Homo sapiens: one gene and its partners. The protein of the gene in region 1 purifies or fractionates together with the protein of each later gene. This does not show direct contact. Each region holds a gene or a part of one and is shown in the gene's direction. Other genes may lie near its edges.

Region 1 (7,575 bases):
GAATAAACAGATACATTTTTTGCCTTTGTGAATCTTACAGTGGTAGAGAATAATAGGCCAAGGGGGTGCTGCTTGGCTAGGAATGTCATAGAATGCCTTTCCAAGGAGGTTACATTTAATACAGACTTGAAGAGTGAGGAGTCATGCTAAGAATGGATGAGAGGCTCACGCCTGTAATCCCAGCACTTTGGGAGGCCGAGACGGGCGGATCATGAGGTCAGGAGATCGAGACCATCCTGGCTAACACGGTGAAACCCCGTCTCTACTAAAAATACAAAAATTAGCCGGGCATGGTGGCGCGTGCCTGTAGTCCCAGCTACACAGGAGGCTGAGGCAGGAGAATGGCGTGAACCCGGGAGGCGGAGCTTGCAGTGAGTCGAGATCGCGCCACTGCACTCCAGCCTGGGCGACAGAGCGAAACTCCGTCTCAAAAAAAAAAAAAAAAAAAAAAAAAAAAAAGAATGGATGAGAAATCATTCAAGACAAAAGCAAACCAGATGTGTAAAGATCCTGAGGCAAAAACAACTCCAAGGAGCCAGGTATGGTGGCCTGTAGTCCCAGCCACTTGGGAGGCTGAGACAGGAGGGTCGATTGAGTCCAGGAGTTTGAGGTTACATCAAGCAATGATTGCACCACTGCACTTCAGCCTGGTTGACAGAGTGAGAACCTATCTCTAACAAACAACAATAAAAAAACAATTCCAAAGAGTGTTTGAGGATCTGAAAGAAGGCCTGTATGGTTGGAGTATAATAGTAAGAGGGAGATTTGTAGATGAGAGTGGAGAAGAAATAAAAATCAGATTATTGAAGGGACTTATGTATCATGGTAAGGAGTTTTTTTTTTTTTTCTCAAGGCAGTAGAAAGCTTAAGCAGAGGAGTGATATAATCTGATTTATATTTTTAAAAGAGTTTGCTATATGTATGTTATGCCTCATTTTTTTTTAAATTTTTTATTTTTAGATGGAGTCTTGCTCTGTTGCCCAGGCTGGACTGCAGTGGCACGATCTCAGCTCACTGCAAGCTCCACTTCCCGGGTTCATGCCATTCTCCTGCCTCAGCCTCCTGAGTAGCTGGGACTATAGGCGCCCACCACCACGCCCGGCTAAGTTTTTTCTATTTTTTAGTAGAGACGCGGTTTCACTGTGTTAGCCAGGATGGTCTCAATCTCCTGACCTCGAGATCTGCCTGTCTCGGCCTCCCAAAGTGCTGGGATTACATGTGTGAGCCACCGCGCCTGGCTGTTATACATCAGTTTTTAAAGAGAGACATTAAGAAATAAAGATGACTCTGGCTACTGTGTGGAGGGTTGGAGAGAAGCAAAAGTGGAAGCAGACTGAATAAGGAGACTATTGCTGCAATTCATATAAGAGATGATGGTGTCCTGAAAGAGTGGTGGCAGTGAAAATTGGGAGAAGAGGACAGAGTCAAGATATATTTAGGAGGCAGAAATGACAGGTCTTGATGATGTATTATAAATGGAGAATGAAGAATAGAATAGAGAAAAATGAATAATTAGCTTTGAACTTTCTGGCTTGAGAAATGGGGTAAATGGGGTGTAATTTACTGAAACTGGAAAGATTTAGAAAGGAATAGATTCGAGGAATCAAGAGTTTGATTTCAGATTTCTTCAGTTTGGGATGCCCATGAGATTTCCAACTGGGGATACCAGATAGGCAGTTATACATGAGATTGGAGCACAGAGAGATGTGGGCTTAAAATATAAGTCTGCATCTCATCAGCTTATTCATATGGTATTTATATCTATGGATATGGCTGAGATCCCAAAAGGAGAGAGTGAAGAGAAAATAGAGAAGAGAGTCTAGGGCCAAACCCAAGGAAGCTTCAACACACAGATGAGGAGACTGACAAAGGAAACTGTCAAAGAACAGTCAGAGAGAAAGGTCAGGAGAATGTTTTGATGGTGGGGGCCAGAATATGCTGTCCCAAAATAAGAAGGATTGTTGAGCTGAAGGCAAGTTAAAAGAAGCAGATACAGGCTGGGTGCAGTGGGCTCATGCCTGTAATCTTAGCATTTTGGGAGGCTAAAGTGGACAGATTGCCTGAGCTCAGGAGTTCGAGACCAGCCTGGGCAACATGATGGAACACCATCTCTACTAAAATACAAAAAAAAAAAAAAAAAAAAAAATTAGCCAGGCATGGTGGCATGTGCCTGTAGTCCCAGCTACTCAGGAGGCTGAGGCACGAGAATTACTTGGACCTAGGAGGCAGAGACTGCAGTGAGCTGATATCTCGCCACTGCACTCCAGCTTGGGCAACAGAGCAAGGCTCTATCTCAAATTTAAAAAATAATAATCATGATAATAATAAAAGAAGCAGATATAGGAGAGGTCTTCTGCCCTCCCTGTATTTGCCTAAAAAACCATAAATTTACAAAGACAAAAGTTATCCTACTTCCACCTCCCTCCTCTGCCTCCCACCACCAGGGAGAACAAAGGTTAACCACTGAAGATAACTTTGGACTCTTATTGGCCTGGAAATGGTACTGCTTTACAAATTAGCCTTTATCTGCCATTCATTTGCCTTCCCCCAAGTAGCTACCCATTAGAGACTCAAAGTCCTTAAAGGTCTTTTCCTTTGTCTTACACTTCTTTAAAAATTTATTGTTCTTTGTTGAAGATGCTATATAAGCTGGAATTCTAAGCCACCTTTTTGAGAACTGCTCATTCTCTGGGTGTCTGTCATGTATATATGAAATGTACATGTTAATAAACTTCTGTTTCCTTTTTTTTCTTGTTAATCTGCCTTTTGTAACAGGGGTCCAGTCCATCTAAGAACTTATTGGGGTTATTCTACATGACAAAGAACTCATGAGAATAAGTGTTTCAAGAAGGGGATGACAAATGCTGCTGAGAGGTTTGATAAGATGAGGACTAAAATGTGACCATTGATTGTGGAAGTAATATAATGAACTTGACATGAGTTATGTTAGAAAATTACTGCTCAGGGACACCAAATTAGAGGAGACTGAGAAGTAATAGGAAATTGAAATAGCAGTTGTACCCAACCCTAAACTGTAATTGAACATAAACAGTTTATTTGATGGAGCTTTTCACGTGTCAACCAAAGGAGCAGTGTTAGATACATAAACATTGCTATGATGTCAGAGTTCCAATGTCATGGCCACTGGGATCACTTTGCCCAGACAGACCATTACCCTTCCTCTCCAGCTCTGACTTCTACTCTTCTAGAAGTCACTGGTATACTTTATGGTGTGTCTTCCAATCAGACTCTTGGGAATGTCTTTTATTGAAAACTCCTGTGGATGCATAATCATTTTCCCAAGACTCAGGGCAGATTTCACCTCCTCTGGAACCCCATTAACTTTCTCAAGTATAATTAACAATTTCTTCTTCTGGAGTCCCACAATACTTTACATATACTTTAGTTATTGCATGTATTAAGTTGGTTTCTAGTTGCTTGAGTGTATGTCCAACTAGACTGTGAGCACACTGAGGGAAGGAATTTGGCTTGGAAAGTAAAATTGGCTCCCAGTGTTTTATCTAAACAAATAGGCTCAATTTACAACAGGATTCCATCCTCTTACGCTGTGTATTCCCATCTCTTCCATGCTGCATCCCACCACCCTTCAATGTTATTACAATAAAATTAAGATCAAATAATTTATTCAGCTAATTTTTCTTGTTTTGGACAAAATAGACATCCTAATACATTTATAGCCAAAGTTTAATCTAGACACTAAAAGGAGCATATTTTGCCTTTAGGCTCTGTATTTCCCATCCCGTTCCCAGTCAAGATAATCACAACTGTATTCTTTAGGAAATTCTTCACAAAGAACCAAACATATGTTACTATGAAACTAGATTCTTGGTATCCTGGTGAAAAAACCTGCCCTCTTGCTTGTCTGTAAATACTGGCCTTGGCTGGGTGTGGTAGCTCATGTCTATGATTCCAACACTTTGGGAGGCCAAGGTGGGAGGATCTCTTGAGCTTCAGTGTTTGAGACCAGCCTGGGCAACATAGTGAGATCCCATTTCTATAAAATTTTTTTTAAAAAGCTAGCCTGGCATGGGAGCTTGTGCCTGTAGTTCCAGCTACTTGGGAGGCTAAGATGGGAGGATTGATTGAGCACAGGAGGTCGAGGCTGCAGTGACTGCATTTCAGCCTGGGTGACAGAGGGAAATCCTGTCTCAAAAAAATTAAACAAATAAATAAATAAGTAAACACTTGCCTTGCCCTCAGACTTGAACAAACAACTCGTGATTTTTCTGGGGAGGTTCAGCCTGCCTATGCAGTACTCCTGTACTCTACCAGCAGTGTGGCATCAAGAGCATGTGTTGACCCTGTTAATGATTTGTAATGTTTTGTCTTTCAGAACCAGAGGCAGGAGAAGTGTCCCCTCCAGTCGGTGCGGGTGTCAACAGCAACAGCTGGACCTTTAAATACGGACCAGGCAACCCCAAACAATCCGGTCCCGGTGAGTTGCCCGACAAATTCATTATCCCAGGATCTCCTGCAATCATCTCCATCCGGCAGGAGCCTACTAACAGCCAAATTGACAAAAGTGACTTCATAACCTTCGGCAAAAAGGAGGAGACCAAGAAAAAGAAGAAAAAGAAGAAGGGTAACAAGACCCAGGAGAAAAAAGAGAAAGGGAACAGCACGACTGACAACAGTGACCAGTGAGGTCCTCAAATGGAAACAAGCCACTTAGCCAGTTTTTGTAATAATGGCAAATCTCTCCCATGTAGCAATTCCCTGCTCCTTTTTCCTATCTACATGAGCCCTCTTAGAGACCTCAGAAATCTGCAGAAAGTTCCCTGTGTCTGTCTAGAACGCATTTAACAGGTTTTGTCGTAAAAGCTTTACTAAGTCTGGTGTTAACTCTTTCTCTCCACTCTGGCTTGTTTTCAGAACCTAAAAAGCAGACCCAAGTTTCCTTTCTCCTCCGCCGCAAAGGAGAGGCTTCCCAGCCCCGCCAGTGAGAGGTTGGACTCTCTGCCCTGTGCTCCGGGGATCCTGTCTTGATGACACTTGCAGGGCAGGCTGAAAAGTTTTGAGATTGAGCAGCTTGGGAGTTTGTGGCCACTGGGTATGTGTGGCTACCGCGGGTATGCGAGTGCCAGATATTGGCTGAGACGAGCCAGCTTAGACTAATTGGTACAAGGAAGGCAAGAAAACAAAGACAAATAAACAGCGGAAGTTATCAGTATGGAGGGGAAGTGTAAACTTAAAGGGACCAGACTTTCTAAATCTTACAACTCAAGAGGTGGCAGCCACCCTCTAGGAGACAAAACTACCCCCACTGACAAGGCTTTAGGAGACCCTAAAGTCTGTTGGCTGTGACGTCATTATACCTAAAATCTGCATCATACCTGCAAGCCAACAGTTCAGTGTTTTAACAGAGAACCACCCTGGGAAACAGAAGCAGATCTGATGTGTTTCCTATACATGTCCTGTGCTCACTTTATTAAAAATTCTTTTGCACACAATGTTTATGAAAAGGCCAGATCCTTTTCCAATACTTATGCAAAAGCAAAAGAAAACCCCGACACCTCACCTTTCGCTGTTTGTTGTTTCATAGATTTATTTAAAAAAAGAGAAAGTCTATAGCTATAAATCTTTAAAGAGAAATATGAATACAATTCCCCTAAACTCTCCTCAAAAGAGAATTCAGTCTACAGCCATTTAAATGATCATTGCTGCTACAGAAGTGCTTTAAGAGAATTGCCTGAAACATCTGTATTATATCGGCCACCTGCCAATCACAGCTTTACTCTTTCAGGTCACTCTGGGGCTGCCTCTTGCATGTATTACTAAATAAAATGATCTCTCTTTCTCTCTCTCTCTCTCTTTTCTAAGAAACAATTATGTGCACTTTGATACACAACCTTCTCTAACCAACTATATATCAAGACCCAAAAATTGAAGAAAAATATTGTTTTCTCATACAGTGAGCAGATTTTTCAATCTACTAATTCTGTGACTTGTCTTGGTGTGCTAGCCTACACCTTCTCTTTGGTTTAGTTTTCCTTTTCTATAACACTCTGAATTGCTAATCTTACTAACACCTATGATGTTACCTGAAATCAATCTCCCATATGTATGCTGTATGCTATGCTAAGACTCCTGAAATATACTTACTCTGTGCTTGTGTATGTGAATGTTAATGCAACTATTACCTAGAGTGAACTTTAAGCTTTATTGTTGAATGTAATTCCATTATATTTCCTTTTGTACACCTGTGAAAAAGTGGAGTAGTGTTTTTTTAACCATTGTTAATCAGCTTTTGTGTATGAAAGACACAGTAAAATTTCTTTCTTAAATCAAGATACTGGTGATTCAAGGAATTTTATTTATGGTCCAGCCAAGAGCCATCTCGTGCCAAGACTTCTGCTGGCAAGGGAATGGATAAAGCTGTTTTGTTCTAGTAACAATTTTGGAATGAATACTGACAATATTCCATGAGGGTGTGCAAGCACAAATTTTACCAATCTGACCTCTTTGAAGTTGCAGAATGCTTTGAAATTCTAATGGTATCTGAAATATCAGCTCATAGAAAGTAACAAAATTTGCTGTCACCTTAAATAAGACATTTTAATTTTGTTATAATGTACAATTTAGAAGTTTGATTAATTATATTATCTATTTAGGCATTAATATAAAAGAGGTAGGAGTCTGTTATTTAAAAAAAGCATTAAATTTAAAAAAAAACTGTCTTGTCTACTTTTAGCTTCATTCTCCCATATTTTGAAGGGTGTGTAACTTCAGCTCTGCAGGATTGCATGGGGTAAAACTTGTTACCAACACATGTGAACCATTGCTACATTGTAGGTTGTGATCATTTTGCCCCACTGAAGCCCATGTATCTGACCTTACGTGCCTTTTGAACTAGGAGAATCGGGCTAATTTATTAATGATGATAATTATAATGTATCTGTACAGCACTTTTTACATTTGCGAAGTGCTTTCCAATCCATGTTAGTTACTAGTTATTACAGCTGTAAGGATAAAACACGTCATGTGGATTCATTTTGAATTGGTGCTATTGGTATTTCCTCTGTTATTGCTAATAAATGAAAATGGTGGTATGAAAGAAATGGTGGTCATTTCTAAGAATAGGAGGAAATAGAACACTGATAAGCAATTAATACTGAAGAAGATTGCTGCAGTATGAAACTCACTGTAACACTCTCTTATCACGTTAGCTTTTATGTCCATTACTAAGGCAAAAGCCCCAGTGGAATCAAGATTCAAACTTCATATCATTAGAATGGGCAGCCAGGAGGTTGCTGCGTCACTTTGTAGTTACACTATTTCAGTTTTCTCTAATAAGAATTGCAACAAACCCATTTTTATCACAAGAGCCCTTCTAGGCATCTTTTTCATTACTTGTTTAGCCCTTGCACCTCTCTACAATTGGAAAGCCAAGTGACACCCCAAAGAAATGAACTTTTAGGTCAGGGATAGTGGCTCTTGCCTGTAATCTCAGAACTTTGGAAGGCCAAGGCCAGAGGATGGCTTGAGGCCAGGAGTTCAAGATCAGCCTGGGCAGCATAGCGAGATCCCATCTGTACAAAAAGAAATAACTTTTAT
Region 2 (7,795 bases), on another chromosome or scaffold:
CATTCATTCAGCATTTATTCAGCAGCATTTATATTAACCGTGTGCCAGGCGTGTTGTAGAAGCTTGGGCCCAAAAATGGATAAGACACAGTGTATGTACTCACTGAGCTCACATATTAGTGTAAGTAGGCAGATATTTTTTAAATGATAAGTAATGTATCATTTAAAGTATATCAAGTCATGATATACTTTGAAAAATAAAAACATAAAGAGGACAGAGATGACAGGTGAGGCAGGGGGTGGGGTAGTGAGAGAATGAGTGGGCCGTTTGTAGACTGGATGGTCAAGGAAGACCTTTGACATCTAAATGGAAACCTGAGTGAAGTAAGAGTGCAAGCTGTACAATTAATTTGGGAAAAGAGAGTTCCAGGCCAAGAGAACCATGAGGCTCCAAGGTCATATTGCCCCTGGTATATGGGAACCGAAAGTAGAGGGAGCAATAGGGAAAAGTTTAGGAGATGAAATTGGAGAGGAGGCCAGAAGGTAGGTCCTGCTGGGCCCTGTGGTAAGGACTTTGAACCTCAAATAAAAAGCCAAGAAGGTATAATGTTAAACCATAGATCTGTGAAGGCATTTTTATAAGGAACTAAAGTAACAGTCTAACTCTAAGAACATTAAACATAATTCGGGAGCATATATAGAATATGTACTTCTATCCTAAGTTAATATTTTACTGTGTTTCTTCTCTGTATATAGATTTATGTGGTCCAGGGCATATATGGCTATCATCATTATATGCAGGATCGCATAGATGACAATGGCTGGGGCTGTGCTTATCGATCTCTGCAGACTATCTGCTCTTGGTTCAAACATCAGGGATACACAGAGAGGTCCATTCCAACACACAGAGAAATTCAGCAGGTACAGAACATACCGTTTTAAATTATAATCAACTGTATGTTTCATTAGCCCTTAATATACCATTGATAATTTTTGTTACCTCATGGTGCAGACTTATTTCTGTTTTGAAGAAAAAAAAATTCTTGTACTGGTAATCAGGGAAAATGCCCTAAACATCGTTTTTAATAGCTGTCTTGTGTATGGATGTTTTATATTTTTAAATACATCAAGGCTCTAGTCGATGCCGGGGACAAACCAGCAACATTTGTCGGATCGCGGCAATGGATTGGATCTATTGAGGTGCAGCTGGTACTAAACCAATTGATCGGTATAACGTCAAAAATCCTGTTTGTCAGGTAAGCACACTTTAAGAAATTAGATAAATCATTTCAAAGTGACAGTCTGTCATTTTAATTAAAATAATAGAAAAAATGGTATCTTCCCTTATTTCTTTTTATTCCTTTTCCTTCTTCCTTATTACTCATTGCTTTATAAATCTCATTTTTTAATCTTAATTTTTTTTCATTTTTTTTTGGAAGGCTCTGATTTTATGAATAAACTTTGTGATGTAATGTATACTTGTATTATTTAGGCCTAATTTTAGCCTAGAAGAGGAAAACTTAAAAATATATTAACGTTGAGTAAAGTCATAAAAATTATATTAACAGTTTCTTTATGCTCCAATCTTTTAAAAAGTCTTAAAAGGCAAAACTCAAATGTTGAACTATGACTGACCTTTTTGTTTACCTCCTGCTCTTTTTCTTTCTAAAACGTTAATAATCTAGTAATGTGTTCAAATAATGTATTCATTTTGTCTTTTCCAATGATCTTAACCATAATTCTAATATTAAAATGAGAAAATATAAATTAATTATTTTCTATGACCATAACTAGCTGACTCCTGATTGTATGAGCTTATGTTTTAAAATACATTTTCTAGCCAGGTGCAGTGGCTCACGCCTGTAATCGTAGCACTTTGGGAGGCCGAGGTGGGTGGATCCCCTGAGGTCAGGAGTTTGAGACCAGCCTGGCCAGCAGAGCAAAACCCTGTCTCTACTAAAAATACAAAAAAAATTAGCTGGGTATGGTGGCGCATGCCTGTAATCCCAGCTACTTGGGAGGCTGAGGCAGGAGAATCGCTTGAACCCAGGAGGTGGAGGTTGCAGTGAGCCAAGATCATGCCACTGCACTCCAGCACAGGCAACAAAGCGAGACTCCCTTTCAAAAAAAAAAAACAGAAAAATACATTTTCTAAAAAAAAAAAAAAAAAAAAAGAAAAGCCAAAAAACAAATAAAATACATTTTCTATTGTTAATTACAGTAACATCGTCCTCATTGTATCTTTTATGTGTTAAAGATGTAATTTTATCCTTTCCTCAGTGGTTATGGAAATCAGTGGTAAAAAAATGACAGACTGGCTGGGCACAGTGGCTCACGCCTGTAATCCCAGCACTTTGGGAGGCCAAGGTGGGTGGATCACCTGAGGTTGGCAGTTTGACACCAGCCTGGCCAACATGGTGAAACCCTGTCTCTACTAAAAATATAAAAATGAGCCGGGCATGGTGGCACACGTCTGTAATCCCAGCTACTCAGGAGGCTGAGGAAGGAGAATCGCTTGAACCTGAGAGGCGGAGGTTGCAGTGAGCTGAGATCGCGCCACTCCACTCCAGCCTGGGCAACAGAGCGAGCCTCCATCTCAAAAAATAATAATAATATAAAACAATGACAGACTTAAGTAGTGAAGAACTTTTTTTAAAAGTTACAGTTTTGGTACATTAAAACATACGTTCCTCATTAAGCAAGAGCTAAGGTTTAGCACCACCGGGCACCTTCCCCCAAAAAATACCTCCCTTCATTATCCCATCTATCTTTCTCTTTTCAAAAGTAAAAATTCTGAGATTCCCTAAAAATAGTATGTTGCACTTGAAAACATTTTGCAGTTTTCACATTGATTTCACAGACATGTATTTTAGGCCTAGACTCTCCTCTGTTATGTAGACAGGTCAGCGTTTTGGGTCCCAATTTAAAGATGAGGAAATACAGACTAAGAAGTCTACCAGCAAGAAGGCAAGAACCCAGGACTTAACACTCATTCTTCTGATTAATCCATCCATAAGAACTCCCTGAGCACCAAGGTGATGTTTTAACTTCATGTTAAAAACCCAGGCCTCCTTTATACAGTTCAAGAAGCAGAAAATCAAGGTCTTTTAGCGTCTTATCTAGCACACTTGGTGGCCTTAAGTATTTTGAGTTTATGTTGCTTTAAATTGCACAGTTTAATTGCTCTCAGTTCCCTAACACTTAATTTTTTTACATTTATATATTTTTTCAGTAACACCCGAAAAAACAAGAAAGTAGGAAACATTGTCTCCTAGCTCATTATTTGACCGTAGTGTTGGAAGTAGTTCATCTGATAGAAAATGGTTTCTTTCTAGCCAAGGTTCAGAAATTGCCTCTCAAGGACGGGAACTGGCTAATCATTTCCAAAGTGAAGGAACTCCAGTTATGATCGGTAAGCTGTTTCAGACACTGTTTTTGGTAGAGTGAGTAATATGCAAAACTTATCATTGATATAAATATTTAATGTTGCATAAAATCAGTCATTTAAAAAATTTTGAAATTAACTTTTACACCATATGTATGGATCTCTGGATATTGAAAAAAATTTCTAAGGTGGCTTAAAGGTTACAAAAAAGATTATAATAACCAGAAGAAGTAAAGGCTGAGAAATGGTAGCTATGTTCAAACATTTAAAGAGCTGAGAACAGTATTAAAAAGAGGAAACGGTCACTCAGCTGAGCTTCGTAAGTCATGACTCTGTCATAACTGGGCTGGCTTTGTGAGATTTTGCAATTACTTACCTCTGTGGATTTTATTTGTAAAATAAGAAGATTGGATTAGCTGATCTAAAGATGCTTAATTCTTTGAAGAACAAGACCTGTCCTGTGATGACAGAAGGCAAGGTGAGACTAGTGTGTAAGAAATGGAGGTAGAAGCTGGGCATAGTGGCTCACACCTGTAATCCTAGCACTTCGGGAGGCTGAGGCAGGAGGATAGCTTGCATCCAGGAATTCAAGACCAGCATGGGCCAGACCGCGTCTCTACCAAAAAAAAAAAAACACACAAATTAGCTGGCATGGTAGTGTGAGCCTATAGTGCCAGCTATTCAGGAGACTGAGGTGGGAGGATTGCTTGAGCCCAGGAGGCTGCAGTGAGCCAAGAGATCCACTGCTCTCCAGCCTGGGTTACAAAAGTGAGACACTGTCTCAAAAGAAAAAAAAAAAAAAAAGAAATGGAGGTAGGCTGATGTCAGCAAAATATCAGAAAGAACTTAATGAGTAGGCCGGGCCCAGTAGCTCACGCCTGACTCCTGATTGTATGAGCTTATGTTTTAAAATACATTTTCTAGCCAGGCACAGTGGCTCATGCCTGTAATCCAGCACTTTGGGAGGCTGAGGCGGGCGGATCACTTGAGGCCAAGAGTTCGAGACCAGCCTGGCCAACATGGCAAAACACTGTCTCTACTAAAAATACAAAATTTAGCTGGGTGTGGTGGCACACACCTGTAATCCCAACTACTTGGGATGCTGAAACAGGAGAATCGCTTGAGCTGTGAGGTGGAGGTTGCAGTGAGCCGGGATTGCCCACTGTACTCCAGCCTGGGTAGCAGAGCAAGACTCTGTCTCAAAAAAAAAGACTGGGCACAGTGGCTCACGCCTGTAATCCCAGCACTTTGGGAGGCCAAGGTGGGTCGATCACGAGGTCAGGAGATCGAGACCATCCTGGCTAACAGTGAAACCCCGTCTCTACTAAAAAAAAATACAAAAAATTCGCTGGGTGTGCTGGTGTGCGCCTGTAGTCTCAGCTACTCAGGAGGCTGAGGCAGGAGAATTGCTTGAACCTGGAAGGCAGAGGTTGCAGTGAGCCGAGGTCACGCTATCGCACTCCAGCCTGGGTGACGTGAGACTCTAGCTCAAAAAAAAAAAAAAAAAAAAAAACTTAATGAATGGAGTGCTATATCACTGGAGGTACTCAGAGGCAGCAGGACCATCTGCTGAGAGAGGCACTACAGCAGATTGTTACTCTGTTGGGAGGAGTTTATGGCCCTTTCTAAATCCATTTTAGGTAATTATATGGATGTGAATGTAGAATATAAATTGTATGTGATTATAGATATGATTGTATCTTTTGTGTTAAAGATGTAATTTTATCCTTTCAGAGTATATCTGACATTGTGTCTTTTATAGTGTAGGGTAGTCCATTTTAATGCTATTTTAGATCAGTTAATAAGCAAAGTAATGTTGTTTTTTTTTGTTTTTTTTTTTGAGAGTCTTGCTGTGTCGCCCAGGCTGGAGTGCGGTGGCATGATCTCGGCTCAGTGCAAGCTCCGTCTCCCAGGTTCATGCCATTCTCCTGCCTCAGCAGGAGCTGGGACTACAGGCGCCTGCCACCAAGCCCAGCTATTTTTTTTGTATTTTTTTAGTAGAGACAGGGTTTCACTGCATTAGCCAGGATGGTCTCCATCTCCTGACCTCGTGATCCACCCACCTCCCAAAGTGCTGGGATTACAGGTGTGAGCCACCACGCCCGGCCGTAATCTGTCTATTTAAATTGAATAGGCATTTGACATTTGTTTATGCCTTCATTCGTATTTCCTATTTTTTCTTCTATAGGGGGAGGAGTTTTGGCCCACACAATACTAGGAGTTGCATGGAATGAGATTACAGGGCAGATAAAGTTTCTGATTCTAGATCCACATTATACCGGTGCTGAAGACCTGCAAGTTATTTTGGAAAAGGTAAGTATCCATTTAACACAAATTGAGACAAAAGGCAAAGAAGCTAGAAATGAAGGATCACAAACTGGCTGGTAACAGAAAGACAATAAGCTGAGGGCAGAGATCTCCCTGTGTGGAGGCCTTCTGAGGCTGTTGTAAGTAGCCGTCTCTGTATAGGGAATGTGCAAGAACAAAGCACATTGCAAAAGACAAAATTTAGGTTTATAGAAACTTTCTCAGCTATTAAAATTAATAATAGGACACACACTCATAAATATATTCCTTTGGAGATTTTAGAGCTTTCATAAACAAATGTATCAAAGTTTATCAATGTCTTAAAATAGATGAGCAGAATATATAAACTTTTAAAATTTTAGAATTAACCAAAAGATAGCTAAGCAGTATGCTAGACATTATGGAGGCTTGACTAATTTTAATTCATTTACATATAACCTAATCTCATTCTATAAAGGGTTTGAAGTTGATACATATTTAAGAGTATTCTTACTTACAATAGCAGATAAAGGAGGTAAAAATTTGTTAATTCATAGGCAACTAATTCTCACATATGAAAACTCAGTACCAAGTCTTTAGGAGAAAGTATTGTAAAACATAATTAACTTGAATTTTAAGTAACATTTATATTCGCTGCCAAATACATTGAAATTGCAGAGAATACATAACCACCTTTTAAACTATAAACTAAAGATAAAATGTTTTAATATGTTAAAGAGTTTTAAGCCAGGCGTGGTGGCTCACACCTGTAATCCCAGCACTTTGGGAGGCTGAGGTGGGCAGATCACCTGAGATCAGGAATTCGAGACCAGCCTGGCCAACATGGTGAAACCCCATCTCTACTAAAAATGCAAAAATAAGCCAGGTGTGGTGGTGGGCGCCTATAATCTTGGCTATTTGGGAGGCTGAGGCAGGGGAATCACTTGAACCCGGGAGGCAGAGGTTGCAGTGAGCTGAGATGGCGCCATTGCACCCCAGCCTGGGCAACAGGAGTGAAATTCCAGCTCAAAAAAAAGTTTTTAATGTGTGTAGTCCAACTCTGTTATATCCTCAGTTTACTGAAGTCTTTTGTTTATGATAAGGGTATAAACACTAATAGGATAGAAATGTGTTGTTACAGTTTTAAGTGTTTTTTTTTCCTTTTCTCTTTCACAGCATTTGGAATTTGAAGTCTATAAAAGGTTTTTTGACTGGTGCATGTATCTTACTGAATATAGTAGCAATATTCTTGTTCTGTAGCAAGGTGTTCATTCCATTCAGTATTTATTAAAGTACCTAACAAGTGCCAGGCACTGTCCTAAGCACTAGTATTACACGAGGTTTTTCGGGAGCTAAAACCTTTAGGGTAGGACAGAGAAGGAGAGTGCAAAAAGGACTCTCGAGAAAAAAAAAATGGTATCTCAGGTGCTTCTACGAGGCTGGTGCTGTGGTGGCCCCTGCCTTGTAGAAACAGTGAAAGCCGCACTGCAGGTAGATCAGTGCGTCCAGAGCTAGGCGAAGAGGTGAGGCTGGAAGGACACACCAAGCTCAGTCAGAAAGGGTGGTCTTTGTGAACCAGGCATTTCGATTTTTTCTTAAAGGCAGGGAGAAGCCTTAATTATTTTCATCATCAAATTTCTCTTTTCTGGTTGACTCAAGGGGCTCTGCACTACATGGCATTATCTAGGTAAGGTTTCTGAACAATTAGAGTAAGGGATTGTCCCTGATTTCTTTCTCTGAGAATTGCAATCTCCATCTTTGCTAGTTCTATTTCTATAGAACTTTTCAACAGCAGAAACCTCCTTGCTCTATTTGTATACACAAGAAACTGTGCAGCCAAGGTCCTGCCATTAAAACTATTGATTCACTTGACTCCAGGAACCCAGGAGGCCAGAGGAGAGTTCCATCTCTGCCTGACCTCTTTGCCTTCTTGTGGTGCTTTCCTGTTTGAAGTTCCCATGCTGGTCATCTCACAGGAAAGAAGCATGTCCTATGCACTATGTCCCTATGCAATCCCATTCTGACACCCTCTCTACCAATTTCTCCTTTAAAAAATCTGGATCTGGTTACCTGGACAAGGCCTTCATGTGTAAAAGGATCAAAAAAAGGTTAAAACAGAATGAGCCTTTTTTCTCTGTCTGTTAAGAGAACAGATTTTAGGACATTAAATTAATAGAGAAAGTTT
Region 3 (7,795 bases), on another chromosome or scaffold:
GAGGCCGAGGCGGGCGGATCACCTGATGCCAGGAGTTCGAGACCAGCCTGACCAACACAGAGAAACCCCATCTCTACTAAAAATACAAAATTAGCCAGGCATGGTGGTGCATGCCTGTAATCCCAGCTACTGAGGAAGCTGAGGCAGGAGAATCGCTTGAACCCGGGAGGCAGAGGTTGCAGTGAGCCGAGATCTTGTTACTCCATCCTGGGCAACAAGAGTGAAACTCCGTTCCCACCCCCCCCCAAAACAAACAAACAAAAAACTGCATGCCATGTGATACCATTTTTAAAACCTTAAAACCAAGCAAAATGAAACAACACTGTTCAGGGAGAATAAATGGTAGCACTATTAGCAAAGCAAGGGAATTCAGGTCGTGTTACCTTTGGGGGAGAGAAGGTGCCACCAGTGAGGGCCCAGTGTGTTGAGGGGCAGCGAAATTCCTGATCTCTTCACATTTCCACTCCTCCATAGTAAAGGGTTTATAAGCAGGATATATATTGACTTGGTAGAACAGAGCTTTCATGTAATGAGAACAGTGACTGTTGTAGCATCCCTACAGTTAGTTTTGAATCTGGTTTCTATTCACATTTAAGCAGATGTTCCATTAGCAGAGGGGTTTATATTTGTTGCCTTGGTTGGGTACTTTGGATTAGAAAAATATTGTCATTTTTTTCAGTTCAAGAACAAAGGGTTAAAACCTTTTGTTCGGCTGGGTGCGGTGGCTCACGCCTGTAATCCCAGCACTTTGGGAGGCCGAGGCGGGTGGATCATGAGGTCAGGAGATCGAGACCATCCTGGCTAACATGGTGAAACCCTGTCTCTACTAAAAATACAAAAAATTAACTGGGCGTGGTGGCGGGCGCCTGTAGTCCCAGCTACTCGGGAGGCTGAGGTAGGAGAATGGCGTGAACCAGGGAGGCGGAGCTTGCAGTGAGCCGAGATCACGCCACTGCACTCCAGTCTGGGCGACTGAGCAAGACTCCATCTCAAAAAAAAAAAAAAACCTTTTGCTCCAAATTTTTGTTTCATTAAATCTACTGATGAGTTGAATGTTACCAGAATCTAGCTGAGAGAATTTAGGTTGGAAATGAACATCTGAAAACTGCAAAATAACAAATAGATGTACTTATTCATGGTTTGTCACTAGAGTGTTCATTAAAAGAAAAATCCTGCCGGGCACGGGGGCTCACTCCTGTAATCCCAGCACTTTGGGAGGCCGAGGTGGGCGGATCACGAGGTCAGGAGATCGAGACCATCCTGGCTAACATGGTGATACCCTGTCTCTACTAAAAATACAAAAAATTATCCGGGCGTGGTGGCGGGCGCCTGTAGTCCCAGCTACTCGGGAGGCTGAGGCAGGAGAATGGTGAACCCAGGAGGCGGAGCTTGCAGTGAGCCGAGATAGCACCACTGCATTCCAGCCTGGGTGACAGAGCGAGACTCTGTCTCAAAAAAAAGAAAAATCCTAATGACCCCTGAGGGTGTTAGGACACTTCATGTAGGAGTATTTCATCCCTAAATTAATAACTTCAGAATTATGCAGTAGTTCATGGTAAGTTGGATTCAAAGTGACATTTTGTTCCTGAAGATTAGGTTTTGCTGTAGCAATCGTAGAAGCCGGTCGCTGAGCTTGGTGTGGAAATGTGTAATATGTGCACCTTTGACTTTTTTCCTTAGTGTATTCCATCTTCATTCTTTCCTGTATTACTGACATGGGCTTATCTTTTCTCCCTTTAGAGAGTTTTGAGGTGACAGTCACCAAAGAAGGTGATAAAGGGTTCTTTCTTCCCCTCTTATGAATATTAACCCACTAACTTTGTTTATAAAATTGGGAATCAGCCCTTAAACAGGAGAAACTGTCATGCTCTTTTATCCTTATTTATTCTCCTACTTTGTTTCTATTTTAAAGTATATTGATGGAAATTGTATGTAACCAGACCCTTGGTTAGAAATATCTGGAAATCAGACATCCATTTGAACTGTATGGATAACACTGTACATTTTTGTTTAATAGAACTTCAGAGATTTGCTTTATAACAATTTTCTATTAGTTGGAATTGTGGAAGGAGTGCAGTCTTATTTTCATGTGAAATACATTTTGTGGAGTTTCACATCGACATCAAAACATTTATACTGTTCTCCCATGGACAAGAATGGAAACATAGATTTTTAACTCCTAATTAAGTTGTGAGCCAATTTAGATGTAGAGAAGTTCCCAGGCTGGTGTCTTTTTCAGGTTTGATAGGATAAAGTCCGAAACAAAGGCAAGTCTAGCCAGTCCCTCCCATAATAGAAACTGTGTCTGAATCGTAGATGATAAAATAGCTGTTGAAATGGATGCCTGACGAGTCGGTATTTCTACCTTTCTCATTGAGTAGTTTGTTTTGATTCCCTAATTTTAGCCAGGCTCATTGCACAGGAAGACTTGTTTCCTTTGATTTTTTTTTTTGACAGAATTTCTGTAATTACGGTGCTGATCCTATATCTCACGCTTCCTCCTCTCTCAACACATAACTGCGTTTTAGCTTCTCTCTGGTCCAAATCAAACTGGCTGCCAGCCCTCCCAGGAGCTGGGGCAGCGCTGGTGTTCTCAGGCCTGGCTGTGTGCTAATGAGACTCCTTTTACCCTCGAGCTATCTAAGTGCTCCTGTGGAATGCCTGTCTATATTTTCTTCTCTCTCTCTTTTGTATTCCTGCATGAATGGATGCAAAGTAAACAAGTTGCTTGGAAAGCCAGAATCTGCTTCATCTTACTAAAGCCCGAGAACTTCCCCATGTTTAAAACACAGTGCCCCTGCTTTGTCCACGGACCCTCCAAACCCCTGGCTGCCAAATTGTTGTCATTTATTTTCTTTGGGGGTGGAGATGGGGGGAGGAGGGCAAGGTGCAGAAGATCTATGTGGTAGGAATTCTTACCTGTTCTGCTTTGACTCCCTAGGTGAGATTTGTGGATTTAAAATTCACGGGCAGAATGTCCCCTTTGATGCAGTGGTAGTGGATAAATCCACTGGTGAGGGAGTCATTCGCTCCAAAGAGAAACTGGACTGTGAGCTGCAGAAAGACTATTCATTCACCATCCAGGCCTATGATTGTGGGAAGGGACCTGATGGCACCAACGTGAAAAAGTCTCATAAGTAAGTAAGCTGGACAAAGAGTGAACATAACCCACCGAGTAAACGTGTGTGCGCAGAACGAAAATAGTAGTGACTATTGCCTGCTCCCCAAGACTGTTTTTGAAATAGGCAGAAGATAGTTCTCAAGTGTCTACAATTAGATTGTAAACACTTGGAGGGCAGGAATCATGTCTCTCTACCCTTGTATACAGTTTCTAGCAAGAGCCTTGCTCACATTAGGCATATTAGGTTTTTTGGGGTTGTTTTTGTTTGTTTTTTGAGATGGAGTTTTGCTCTTGTTGCCCAGGCTGGAGTGCAATGGCATGATCTTGGCTCGCCGCAACCTCCGCCTCCTGGGTTCAAGCGATTCTCCTGCCTCAACCTCCCACATAGCTGGGATTACAGGCATGCGCCACCACGCTCAGCTAATTTTGTATTTTTAGTAGAGATGGGGATTCTCCATGTTGGTCAGGCTGGTCTCAAACTCCCGACCTCAGGTGATCCGCCTGCCTGGGCCTCCTAAAGTGCTGGGATTATAGGCGTGAGCCGTACCTGGCCTTTTTGTGTTTTGTTTTTGAGATGGAGTTTCGCTGTTTCACCCAAGCTGGAGTGTAGTGGCACGATCTTGGCTCATTGGAACCTCCGCCTTCCGGTTTCAAGTGATTTTTCTGCCTCAGCCTCCCGAGTAGCTGGGATTACAGGTGCCTGCCACCACGCCTGGCTAATTTTTGTATTTTTAGTAGAGACGGGTTTCACCATGTTGGCCAGGCTGGTATCAAACTCCTGACCCCATCATTCACCTGCCTCGGCCTCCCAAAGTGCTAGGATTACAGGCGTGAGCCACCACACCCGGCCTAGGTTTTTAATAAATGAATGAGTGAATAATTTTATCACACCAAATACTCTATTAAAGAAGTAAAGGCCCTACATTAAAAATTGAAAAAGTCTGCTTCTCCCTTAGGAAGGTTATTTTGTTGTCATATTTATCTTTTGCTGTAATTCCTAAGGGCATAAACTTAATCATTGTTGGCCAGGTGCAGTGGCTCACACCTATAATCCCAGCACTTTGGGAGGCTGAGGTGGGAAGATTGCTTGAGCCTAGGAGTTTGAGAGCAGCCTAGACAATGTAGGAGATGCCATCTCTACAAAACATAAACAGCCAGGTATGGTGGCACATGCCTGTGGTCTCAGCTACTTGGGAGGCTAAGGCGGGAGGATTGCTTGAGCCCGAGAGGTTGAGGCTGCAGTGAGCCATGATTGTGCCACTGTACTCCAGTCTGAGTGTCAGAATGAGACCCTGTCCCTAAAAAACAATAACAACAAAAATTGGCCAGGCACGGTGGCTCACGCCTGTAATCCCAGCACTTTGGGAGGCCGAGGCAGGCAGATCACCTGAGGTGATTTTCACCTGAGGTCAGGAGTTCATGACCAGCCTGGCCAACATGGAGAAACCCTGTCTCTACTAAAAATACAAAATTAACCAGGCATGGTGGCACGCGCCTGTAGTCCCTGCTTCTCGGGAGGCTGAGGCAGGAGAATCACTTGAACCTGGGAGGTGGAGGTTGCACTGAGCCAAGATCACATCATTGCACTCCAGCCTGGGCAAAAAGAATGAAACTCCGTCTCAAAAAAAAAAAAAAATTAGTCACTGCTGGTGGAAGTAGGCTGGCTCGCTGCCACAATCCTGAGTGTGTTGCTGCACCTCCTGCCAGTTAGGAACTGCAGTTGTAGCAGAGAGGGCTTTGGACAAGACAACATAGAACAGGGGTCGCCATACCTCAGGACGTGGGCCAGTACTGGTCCGTGGCCTGTTAGGAACCAGGCCACACAGCAGGAGGTCAACAGCATGTGAGCGAGTGAGCATTTCTGCCCGAGCTCCACCTCCTGTCACATCAGCAGCGGTATCAGATTCTCACAGGAGCGCGAACCCTGTTGTGAACTGAGCATGCCAGGGATCTAGGTTGTGCGCTCCTTATGAGAATCGACTGCCTGATGATCTGAGGTGGGGCATTTTCATCCCAAAACCATCCTCCCACCCCCATCTGTGGAGAAATTGCCTTCCATGAAATCAGTCCTTGGTGCCAAAAAGGCTGGGGACTGCTGGTGTTCTCAAGTCCAGTGTCTTCTACAATTAGATTGTAAGCTCTAGTCTTTTCTAGAGCTCTAGTCTTTTCTCCACCACTTGCTAGCCCTTTGGCATTGTGCAAATTTAATTTTGTTGAGTCTGTTTCTTTTTCTTTTGTTTTATTTATTTATTTATTTACTTATTTTTTGAGGCAGAGTCTCGCTCTGTCACCCAGGCTGGAGTGCGGTGGCACAATCTCGGCTCACTGCAACCTCCACCTCCAGGGTTCAAGCGATTCTCGTGCCTCAGCCTCCCAAGCAGCTGGGATTACAGGCACGCTCCACCACACCTGGCTAATTTTTGTATTTTTGGTAGAGACGGAGTTTCACCATGTTGGCCAGGATGGTCTTTAACTCTGACCTCTGGTGACCCTCCTGCCTCAGCCTCCCAAAGTGCTGGGATAGGTGTGAGCCACCACACCCGGCCCTGAGTCTCAGTTTCTACTTAGCACATCTACTAAAGAAGGGTATGTGGGCGAGATGGTGTCACATAACCCATTGTGAGGGTCAGACCGATGGCACTGGGATGAGGAGGCTCATGGTGAGCAGAAGGTGCAGTGCCCCAGTGAGTCTCTTCTCTTTTTCCACAGTGTAATGTTATTGTTTCCCTTGAAAAGGTCAGATTTTGACCAAAGTCCTTGACTGATTCAGAAGCATGCCCTGACCATTAGCCCTTGAAACCTACAGTTTTTTTTATTTGTAGCCAGGTCTGATGACACCCTAATTTTCTTGATAACTGAGCTGGGGTATTGGCAGGTGGCAACGGCCTGCCTCTCCTGAACTCTTCCATTTGTTGAATCAGGACCAGGTGATGCCATGGACTCCAGCCTATTCCCTAGAAGTAGGACAGAATTCGTTTGAACTCTCAGAATCAAACCATTTCATGCTTTCTCTGTTTCATACCCCTTCTTCCCTTGGCTCTATTTTTTTTCTGGATTTTGCTACAAAATATGTTTCAACTTTATAATTGGAGAGCAAACAGACGTCTGGTATTGTTTATCTCCCTTCTGCCTGTCTTGTCCCATATTGTCAAAAAAAAACACCCAAGTCTCTTTTATTTTAGATGATTGGTTTTTTGCTTTATTCTTAGGATATGGAAGAATCGACCCAAATCCCTCTTTTAACTTTCTGTTATCTCCACACTTGAATGAAAAGCAGTGAATAGCTTGTTTAATTTTTGACTTCATCATATGAATTTCATGAAACAAGGTATCAGAAACAGGAAATTTTAAAGTAGGGCAGAATTGGGTAAACACACATACACACTCTCTGTCTCTCTCTCACACTGAAAACAAGCAGAAAAATATTTTTCTCCCTCCCTTTGTCCAGAGCAACTGTTCATATTCAGGTGAACGACGTGAATGAGTACGCGCCCGTGTTCAAGGAGAAGTCCTACAAAGCCACGGTCATCGAGGGGAAGCAGTACGACAGCATTTTGAGGGTGGAGGCCGTGGATGCCGACTGCTCCCCTCAGTTCAGCCAGATTTGCAGCTACGAAATCATCACTCCAGACGTGCCCTTTACTGTTGACAAAGATGGTAAGAATCGAGGAGCCGGCTTTTCAGCTAGGTAGACAGTCCCTGCTAACCCCACTGACTTTACACCCCAGCTTCTGTGCTTCGTCAGAACTTCATGGAACTCACAAGTTGGAGACCTAACCTGGTGTGTGTTTGCTTTTAATTGTAAAAACATTTAAGTTTCTACTTTGTTCCCTGACAACTTCTTCTCTGGAACCTGTAAGTCCTGTGTTCTCTTGTGGGGCTCACCTCTTTTTTGCTTTCCCACCAAAATCAAATAAAAATCCTCCTACCTGACATGGCTTTGTTTTTTTAATCTTCTTAACTTTCAGTCCACATGCATCTGAATGAGACTGACCTTTACATTTAGTTTGTCTCATTTTCTGTTCTCCATTAAGTTTTTTGTTTTTGTTTTTGTGGTTTTTTTTTGAGACAGTTTCTCACTCTGTTCCCCAGGCTGGAGTACAGTGGTGCGATCTCAGCTCACTGCAACCTCTGCCTCCCGGGTTCAAGTGATTCTCCTACCTTAGCCTCTCGAGTAGCTGGGATTACAGGTGCCCACCACCACGCCCAGCTAATTTTTTGTTGTTGTTGTTTGTATTTTTAGTAGAGATAGGGTTTCACCATGTTGGCCAGACTGGTCTTGAACTCCTGACCTCAGGTGATCCGCCCACCTTGGCCTCCCAAAGTGCTGGGATTACATGTGTGAGCCACCGCGCCTGGCCATGTTCTCCATTAAGTTAGAATCTCCTGTGACATCTTTTTTTTTTTTTTTTTTGTTTGAGGGAAGGTCTTGCTCTGTCGCCCAGGCTGGAATGTAGTGGTGCAGTCACTGCTCACTGTAACCTCGAACTCCTGGGCTCACGGGATCCTCCCGCCACAGCCTCGCTAGTAGCTGGGACTGCAGGCACACACCTGTAGTCCCAGCTATTTGGGAGGCTGAAGTGGGAGAATCGCTTGAACCCAGGAGGCAGAGGTTGCAGTGAGCCGAGATCAGGCCACTGCACTCCAGCCTGGGCAAGAGAACGAGACCCTGTT
Region 4 (7,270 bases), on another chromosome or scaffold:
GCATCCGGGTGGTCTCTGCCTAGCTGCTCCTAAGCTCCTGCCCTCTTCCTTCCAGATCACACGGCAGCAATATCAGAACGCACTCACTGCCTGCCACATGGACAGCTCACCTCAGTCCCCTGACATGGAGGCCTTCACAGACGGGGACTCCACTAAGGCCCCCACAACCCGGGGCACACCCCAGACCCCTAAGGATGACCCCGCCATCACGCTCCTCAACAACAGGAACAGCCTGCCGTGTAAGTCAGCTGGGCAGACGGGCAGGCTGGGCTGGTGTGGGGTGAGGATGACCCTGCCTTCCTCTTCTAGCCCTTCCCAGGGCTCACACCACCTGAGCCCTGGGTCTTCTCCAAAGCAGAGAGGTGATGCACTCACTGTCCTCCCCAGGCAGCCGCTCAGACGGGCTGAGAAGCCCCAGCGAGGTAGTGTACCTGAGGATGGAGGAGCTGGCCTTCACCCAGGAAGAAATGACTGACTTCGAGGAGCACAGCACACAGCAGCTCACGCTGTCTCCTGCAGCCGTTCCCACGAGAGCAGGTCAGGGAGGCCAGCTGGGCCCAGTGCAGCAAGGGAGATCATTGCCTTTGGGCACTGGGATGGCCCAGGGAAAGCTGGCTGAGGGGAGCCCTGGGACCGCAGCCCGTGCGTTAAACCTCCGACCTCCTTACACAGCCAGGGAAAGGAAACATTTACTGAGCATCTACCATGCATCAGGCCCTGTCTGATTCATTCTCCTAGGAAAACTGTGTAGGGCAGTATTAGGAGTTGGGTTTCTGCCTGGATTCAGACCCTGGCTCCTTCGTTTAGGAGTTATGCAATTTTAGGCAAGTTATTGAACCTAAGACTCAGTTTTTTTTATCTGAATGGATAAGTATCCTTATGTTAATAGGTATAAATTATGACAGCTATCTTATAAAGTAGCTTTGAGTATAAATGAGATAACATACATAAAAGGCATATTACAGTGTTCAGTACCATGCTTTATAAATGTTACATAGCTATTATTAGGCCTACCTTACAGATTAGGAAACTGATGTCAGCCATCATTCTAACTAGCTGTGGTTTTGACCAAAGGTGTAGCCTATAAGACTTTTCCTGAGGTCTAAGACCATATCACCTCCCTCTGAGACACTGAACACTTCTGCCTTGACAGTGGTGTTGCTCTGAGCTCCCAGGGTCCCAGCAGTCTTGAGAAGCTTCTGTGTTTGCCTCACTAAGATGTATTCCCCAAGCTTTCAGTAGCCCCCTATGCCTGCACCCAAGCCAGCAGTTCCCCCACCCGACCTGTCAGACCTACTTCAGTCCATAGTATAAGACCTCTCAAGTCCAGAGCAACAACCTGAAAAAGTGCTCCAAGATTTTTAAAGTTGGCCGGGCACGGTGGCTCATGCCTGTAATCCCAGCACTTTGGGAGGCCCAGGCAGGCGGATCACCTAAGGCTAGGGGTTCGAGACCAGTCTGACCAACATGGTGAAACCCTGTCTCTACTAAAAAAAACAAAAATTAGCCGGGTGTGGTGGTGGGTGCCTGTAATCCCAGCTACTCGGAAGGCTGAGGCAGGAGAATCGCTTGAACCTGGGAAGCTGAGGTTGCAGTGAGGCGAGATGGCGCCATTGCACTCTAGCCTGGGTGACAGAGTGAGATTCCATCTCAAAAAAAAAAAAAAAAAAAAAAATTTAAAGTCAACAAGACAATATGTTTGAACTTGTGGCTGACCCAGAAAATCTGGGACATACATAGTCACTGTTCCAGGACCTGAATTTAGAACTGATGTTCCTTTTCTGCCCCCAACACCAAATCTAGTAGCTAAAGCACATAGCAAGAAAATGTAACAAAGGAATAAGAATGAAGGCGATGGAGTGGTCTTGGAGATCATCTAGTCCACCCTCGTCCTGTGACATTTGAGGACCCTGGAGGCCTAGAGAAGGGAAATAACTTGCTCAAGTCCAAAAACTGCATCAGAAGCAGGCTCAGCCTCATGGCTTCAGTGCAGTGCCATTTCCAACACACCGCTCTGCCTTAGGTTTTTATTTGCATTGGTGGTAAGGCTTGGCCCCTTCTGGGCTCTCAGATTCTGTAACTCTTTGAATTCCCATTGAGTCCTGCGGGAGAAGACAGGGGCATTGTTGTTGAACCCTGTGGCTTTCCAGGGTTTGTGCAAATATACCAAGGAGACCTCCACCTATCCTCACGTGTGCTTTTAGTCTGGCAAATAGACTGGGTGGAGAACACATTGTTCTCTAAACCCTCTCTCTTGCCAAACAGTGTTTGAGAAGAGGGAATGATTTCTGACTTTGCATGGATCGTTGGATTCCGGCTCCTGTTCTCCATCTTTTTGTTCCTTTTGTGGCACTAAAATGCCTCTTGCTAACTAATGACACCCTGTACTTCCCTGGGCGTCCCTGCCTTGTTACACCACCCTCACCTTGGCTCACGTCTTAAACTTCACTTGCTGAGGGATGTCATCACTCAGAATCACCCTCTCTTGATGCCTGAGTGTGTAGGTTGAGACAACTTGAGTTCTCTCCTTTCCTTTCTCAGCATCAGATAGTGAATGTTGTAACATCAACCTGGATACAGAGACCAGCCCCTGCAGTAGCGATTTTGAGGAAAACGTGGGCAAGAAGCTGCTGAGAACCTTGAGTGAGTAGCTAGTTCTTCACCCAAATGAGAGCCACCCTGCTGATGGTTAGTAGGAAAAGCATGTTAGCATCTTCCTCTTGGGGGAGGAGCCATGGACTCCTCTTAGAAACCCTAATGAGGTACAATTGTGGAAATCCGCAGAAGGGGTTGGGCCAGCACTGCACCCTTGATAGTTTTGGGATCTGTCCCATTCAGTTGTTTGTCCTCTAGGACAGAAGTCTGCACACCATGCCCACAGGTCAATTCTGACCTCCCTCCTTTACTTGTTTTTGTAAGTAAGGACTTATTGGATCACAGACAGATCCATTTGTTATCTATGGCAACAATGTCAGAGTCGAGTAATTGTGACAGAGACCATATGGCCCACAGGCCTCTAATATTTTCTGTCTAGTCCTTTAAAGAATTGGTGTCCAGGAGACTCAATAGAAAGAGAGCAATCTCCTCCACAGATGGAAGTCAATGGTGGAGAGAACAAGGTGAAGATATTCCTTCCTAAAAACAGACCTGGGAACAGATTGCTCTCTCATCCTTGAGGACAACTATGTAATTATGCCCACCTGCCCCACTGCAGAAGGGAGGTTGCTTCAGAGCTAGAGAACGCAGGTCCCTGGAAATGGCTTGCAGCTACAGCCACCAACCCTGATTCATGGGACATCAAAGTCTATGAGATTGGTCCTCTCTGAGGGTGTCTGGCAGTCAGAGGGGCTGGCCCCCAAGGGGCGCAGGAGGCATGGGCCTGAGGTGTTACATGGGCTTTACTCAGTCCCCTCCAGGAAGTCTCAATTCCAGGCACCAGCCTGGGTTTGTGACTTTTCAGAGATGGCATCTTATGTGGAAAGTACGTCCTAATCTTTCAAGATGTAAATATGCCAATATCAGCACCAGCATACAATGCCGGTTAGTTCTAACCAAGCTGTCAAGGGCTTTGTCTCCATTTCTGCTTCTGTTTTGAAAAGAACTCAGACTGCCAAGCAATTATGAATGTTCCTCCAGTGTTACAGGCTGATACTTGCAACTTGTTTTTTTCAGGTGGCCAAAAAAGGAAGAGGTCACCAGAAGGAGAGAGAACCTCTGAGGACAACTCCAATTTAACACCTCTGATCACATGACAGGGCAAAGCCAGCATTCACTGGGTGTGTGAAATTCCAGAGCTTTGGGGGAGAATCCACCCTCCCATCATCTGCTTCCCCCAAGGCCTCCCACAGGTGACAGAATGTTCTGCCTTCCCTTCCATCTCTTCACCCCTAGCTGTCAGTTTGGCAGATTTTCCCTCGTTACCTCCAGTTCGACTCAGAACCTTGACATGGCCATAACAGAAGGAGGTGCCTCTGATAGAACATGCTAGAAATGGTCTTTTCCACAGCATAGTCTGGGACTGGAAAAGAGATGTCTGACTGCAAGCTGACAATGCCACTCTGGGACCCCTGATGCTCTTCTTTGTTCTTTGGGTCCCCTGATGCCATAGGAGACCTATCGTCTTGGAACTTGCCATTCTTTCCTCCAGAACAAAATGTTAACTTTCTAACACATTTCATGCATAGCTTGGCTCAGAAGGTGCCATTGGCAGACAGGCACATGGGAGGCTGGAGTAGGAGGTCTGAAGATTAGTTCAGGGGATGGACCAAGAATTTCCCCCAGAGCTTTAAAGAAGTGGGACTCAGCCATGTTGGCGCGTGATTGACATTACAGCACAGAAAACTGTTAGTGACTGGTTTCCTGTTAGATAAGGGTTCCAGCAGCCTGGGGCAGTATGTCTCAGCTGGAATGGAAAGAATGTGAGATGGAACCTCAAGTCACTGTTTTTACCAGGGACACATCTGTTTTGGCTCCCAATCAGCAGTCTTCAATCGATCAATAATTCTGCTCTGGAAGAGAAGGAACAGGGAGCAGAGAGACCCAACTGGGAGCCAGAGATGGAACTTCAGGTCTTAAGTGCAAATCAAAGCAAAAAACAAACAAAACTTACATGGAAAAACTGTAAGTGCTGAAAGCAAGTTTAGCCATGACAAACCAAAGAGTGCCCAGGTCAGCCAAGAAAGATACATAATCTCATGGGACTTCAGTGGGAGTTACACAGGAATGTTGAAGAATCATTCTTCTTTTTCATGCATTTGTCCTTCTCCCACCCCCTTACTACACCCTAGCAGATCAGCTGAGTGTACTTTATTCCAAGAACTTACTGGATCTCTGGTTTTTCTCCTGAAGTTGGGGCAGGTGCAATTCCAAGCATAACCACCAGATGGCAGAGTGACCGCGCATACCTGCTTCCAAGAATAAAACAGTTCTGAAAAGCAACCGCAAAGCCGGGCGCGGTGGCTCACACCTGTAATCCCAACAGTTTGGAAGACCGAGGCGGGTGGATCACTTGAAGTCAGGAGTTTGAGACCAGCCTGGCCAACATGGTGAAACCCCATCTCTCCTGGGCATGTAGTCCCAGCTACTCGGGAGGCTGAGGCAGGAGAATCGCTTGAACCTGGGAGGCAGAGGTTGCAGTGAGCTGAGATCACACCACTGCACTTCATCCTAGGCAACAGAGCGAGACTCTGTCTCCCCCCGCAAAAAAAAAAAAGAAAGAAAGAAAGAGAAAAGAAAAGAAAAGCAACCACAGCCAGCCTTAGGGAAAACTTGGAAGTAAGTGAAATTTGTCTTCAGAATAACTATCTCCCTTTCTGATCTGTCTCCTACTCTTTAGATGTTCTCAGTCAAGTACTCACTGAACTCATTGATCGAGTGCTGTCTGCTAAATCTCCAAACCATTCCCAAACCTTTCCCCGTAGTATACCATCCAGCTTCCCTCCCCTTCCTCCAAAACCCTCCCTCCCACCTCCCCACACCCATTGAGTCATTCACAGGCAGGAGGGAGACTGATCATTCCTCTGGGTTATCTGCATCTCAAAAGAAAATGCTTACCCACAGGAACTGTTAACTCAGGGGTTCTTAACTTGGGGTCCATCACCCCAGGGGGTCCATAGTTGGACTTCAGAGGGTCTATGAAACCCCTAAAACTGTCAGTATTTAATGTATTTATTCTTGTATGTTTTTTCCAGAGCATTAAAGCTTTCATAAGGTTCTCAAAGGTCTCAGACCTACAAAGAGTTAAAACAAACAGACAAACAAAAAAAAACACTACTATTTTAAATAGTGGAACTTTCAGCCCAGCGTTTCTGCAATGCAGAGTGAAGTGGATACTGGGCAGTTCGAGACAGGTTTTTAATCATAAGTGGTCTTTTCAAATGTCCATCAATTGATGGGGAAGGCTGGCACCCACCAAGAAGTGGAAGTCCTCAGAAATTCTCGGCACACCCTAGAGTATTGTACAACCAACACCCCCACATAACTTTGTCCCCTCTTCCCCAACAACCCAGAGCAGGTGTTGCAGACAGGAGGGCCACAGCGTGTGGAAGTAAAGACTTTGGAGCTAGAGAAGCCTTTTCCAGCAATGATTATTGACTTCACCACACCCCTTGCCTGGCCTGGCCTGAGGCTCAGCAGTGCATGACTTCTCGTAGATAACTTCACAGTCATCCAGTCCCAACACCTGCTCTTGCCTGGTAGGAACAGGCGAAGTGTCAGCCCTCAATGTTGGGTACTTAGACCCAAACCAATAAATGGTGAGTTTTGAACAAGAACTACCATCATGCAGGCTTCTTGCCCAGCTGACCACTGGCCCCGGGGTGCCTGCCTGGCTGGTCTTCATCACCTGAGGCCACCAGGCTCAAGCCACTGCTGTTGCATTACACCCATCCCTTTGCAAAATCCCTATGGAGCCTGTCACCACTCCCCTCCCTATATACCCCCACCCCACAAAGATTTTCTTCAGGTTAAAAAAAAAGTTTAAAAAAAAGATTTTAAAATAAAGCATTTATGAAGGCTTAATAAATTGTAAATAATTTTTAAATAAAATGAAAATGCCTTTCCTGGAATGTGGCTGTTTTCCTTGCCCCTGGAATCTTCTGACGTGGCTTCATTTGAGATGCAGGTTGAGTGATGCCCACGTGTGATGATCTCACCTGTGCACCACCTGCCTGAAGAGGCATGCCGCTCCGGGCCAGGTGTGAGGCTGCGGTGAGGTCACGGGGAAGCCTTGGCACACTACTTTGGGAGGCCAGATGGTAAGATTTTGCAGGAGTGAATGCCAGAAATGAGAAGTAAAACCCAAATGAGAAGCCAGTATGCATAAAGACGAGGAAGGAACTAAGACGACAGTGAGAAGGGCTGGCATTTGCTGAACCCATGTGATGGGTGAGGTGCTGTGCTGGGTGCCGTCCAAATTCAGGGTCTTGGGGGCTAAACCCAGACAAGCCCCTGAGACAGAATGTTGGTCACACTAGCTCGCTTCTGCAGAACCTTCAGAAAGGAGTCCAAGTGGCATGACTCTGGCAGTTTGCAACCAAAGGCTAGGGAACGGAACACAAGAATGGGCCAGGCCTGTTGGTCAGTTTTAAGCCGATGCTGGAGGGAGGGAACAGCCAGGCAGGTGGGAAGATGTGTTTGGGCATATAATACCTGTGTGGAAGGAAGGCTGAAATCTGACACCTACTACTCATTTCTCAAAGCAAACAGGAGGATCAGGGGCCTATGCCAAAACCTCTTAAGATTCTTCTCAGGAACCTCAGTAGAGGCTATT

The links.
Region 2: the proteins of PCDHA4 (region 1) and UFSP2 purify together in Homo sapiens (affinity purification with mass spectrometry; 2 studies listed by BioGRID and IntAct, with this or other methods). This does not show direct contact.
Region 3: the proteins of PCDHA4 (region 1) and CLSTN1 purify together in Homo sapiens (affinity purification with mass spectrometry; 2 studies listed by BioGRID and IntAct, with this or other methods). This does not show direct contact.
Region 4: the proteins of PCDHA4 (region 1) and CNNM1 purify together in Homo sapiens (affinity purification with mass spectrometry; 2 studies listed by BioGRID and IntAct, with this or other methods). This does not show direct contact.

What each region holds. Positions count from the first base shown.
Region 1 is NC_000005.10:141,005,273-141,012,847, forward strand, and holds the end of PCDHA4 (protocadherin alpha-4 isoform 1 precursor), read left to right. Parts: intron 1-4,354; coding exon 4,355-4,665; 3' UTR 4,666-7,075; downstream 7,076-7,575. Other genes in the region: PCDHA1 (protocadherin alpha-1 isoform 1 precursor), read left to right, coding at 4,355-4,665; PCDHA2 (protocadherin alpha-2 isoform 1 precursor), read left to right, coding at 4,355-4,665; PCDHA3 (protocadherin alpha-3 isoform 1 precursor), read left to right, coding at 4,355-4,665; PCDHA5 (protocadherin alpha-5 isoform 1 precursor), read left to right, coding at 4,355-4,665; PCDHA6 (protocadherin alpha-6 isoform 1 precursor), read left to right, coding at 4,355-4,665; PCDHA7 (protocadherin alpha-7 isoform 1 precursor), read left to right, coding at 4,355-4,665; PCDHA8 (protocadherin alpha-8 isoform 1 precursor), read left to right, coding at 4,355-4,665; PCDHA9 (protocadherin alpha-9 isoform 1 precursor), read left to right, coding at 4,355-4,665; PCDHA10 (protocadherin alpha-10 isoform 1 precursor), read left to right, coding at 4,355-4,665; PCDHA11 (protocadherin alpha-11 isoform 1 precursor), read left to right, coding at 4,355-4,665; and 4 more. UniProt on the Homo sapiens protein: Calcium-dependent cell-adhesion protein involved in cells self-recognition and non-self discrimination. Thereby, it is involved in the establishment and maintenance of specific neuronal connections in the brain.
Region 2 is NC_000004.12:185,401,336-185,409,130, reverse strand, and holds part of UFSP2 (ufm1-specific protease 2), read left to right. Parts: exon of another isoform or gene 1-695; coding exon 696-860; intron 861-1,070; coding exon 1,071-1,195; intron 1,196-3,171; exon of another isoform or gene 3,172-3,274; coding exon 3,275-3,351; intron 3,352-5,512; coding exon 5,513-5,637; intron 5,638-7,795. UniProt on the Homo sapiens protein: Thiol-dependent isopeptidase that specifically cleaves UFM1, a ubiquitin-like modifier protein, from conjugated proteins, such as CD274/PD-L1, CYB5R3, DDRGK1, MRE11, RPL26/uL24, TRIP4 and RPL26/uL24.
Region 3 is NC_000001.11:9,750,456-9,758,250, reverse strand, and holds part of CLSTN1 (calsyntenin-1 isoform 1 precursor), read left to right. Parts: intron 1-1,740; coding exon 1,741-1,770; intron 1,771-2,941; coding exon 2,942-3,137; intron 3,138-6,569; coding exon 6,570-6,778; intron 6,779-7,795. UniProt on the Homo sapiens protein: Postsynaptic adhesion molecule that binds to presynaptic neurexins to mediate both excitatory and inhibitory synapse formation.
Region 4 is NC_000010.11:99,387,765-99,395,034, forward strand, and holds the end of CNNM1 (metal transporter CNNM1), read left to right. Parts: intron 1-55; coding exon 56-239; intron 240-387; coding exon 388-537; intron 538-2,541; coding exon 2,542-2,643; intron 2,644-3,672; coding exon 3,673-3,752; 3' UTR 3,753-6,566; downstream 6,567-7,270. UniProt on the Homo sapiens protein: Probable metal transporter.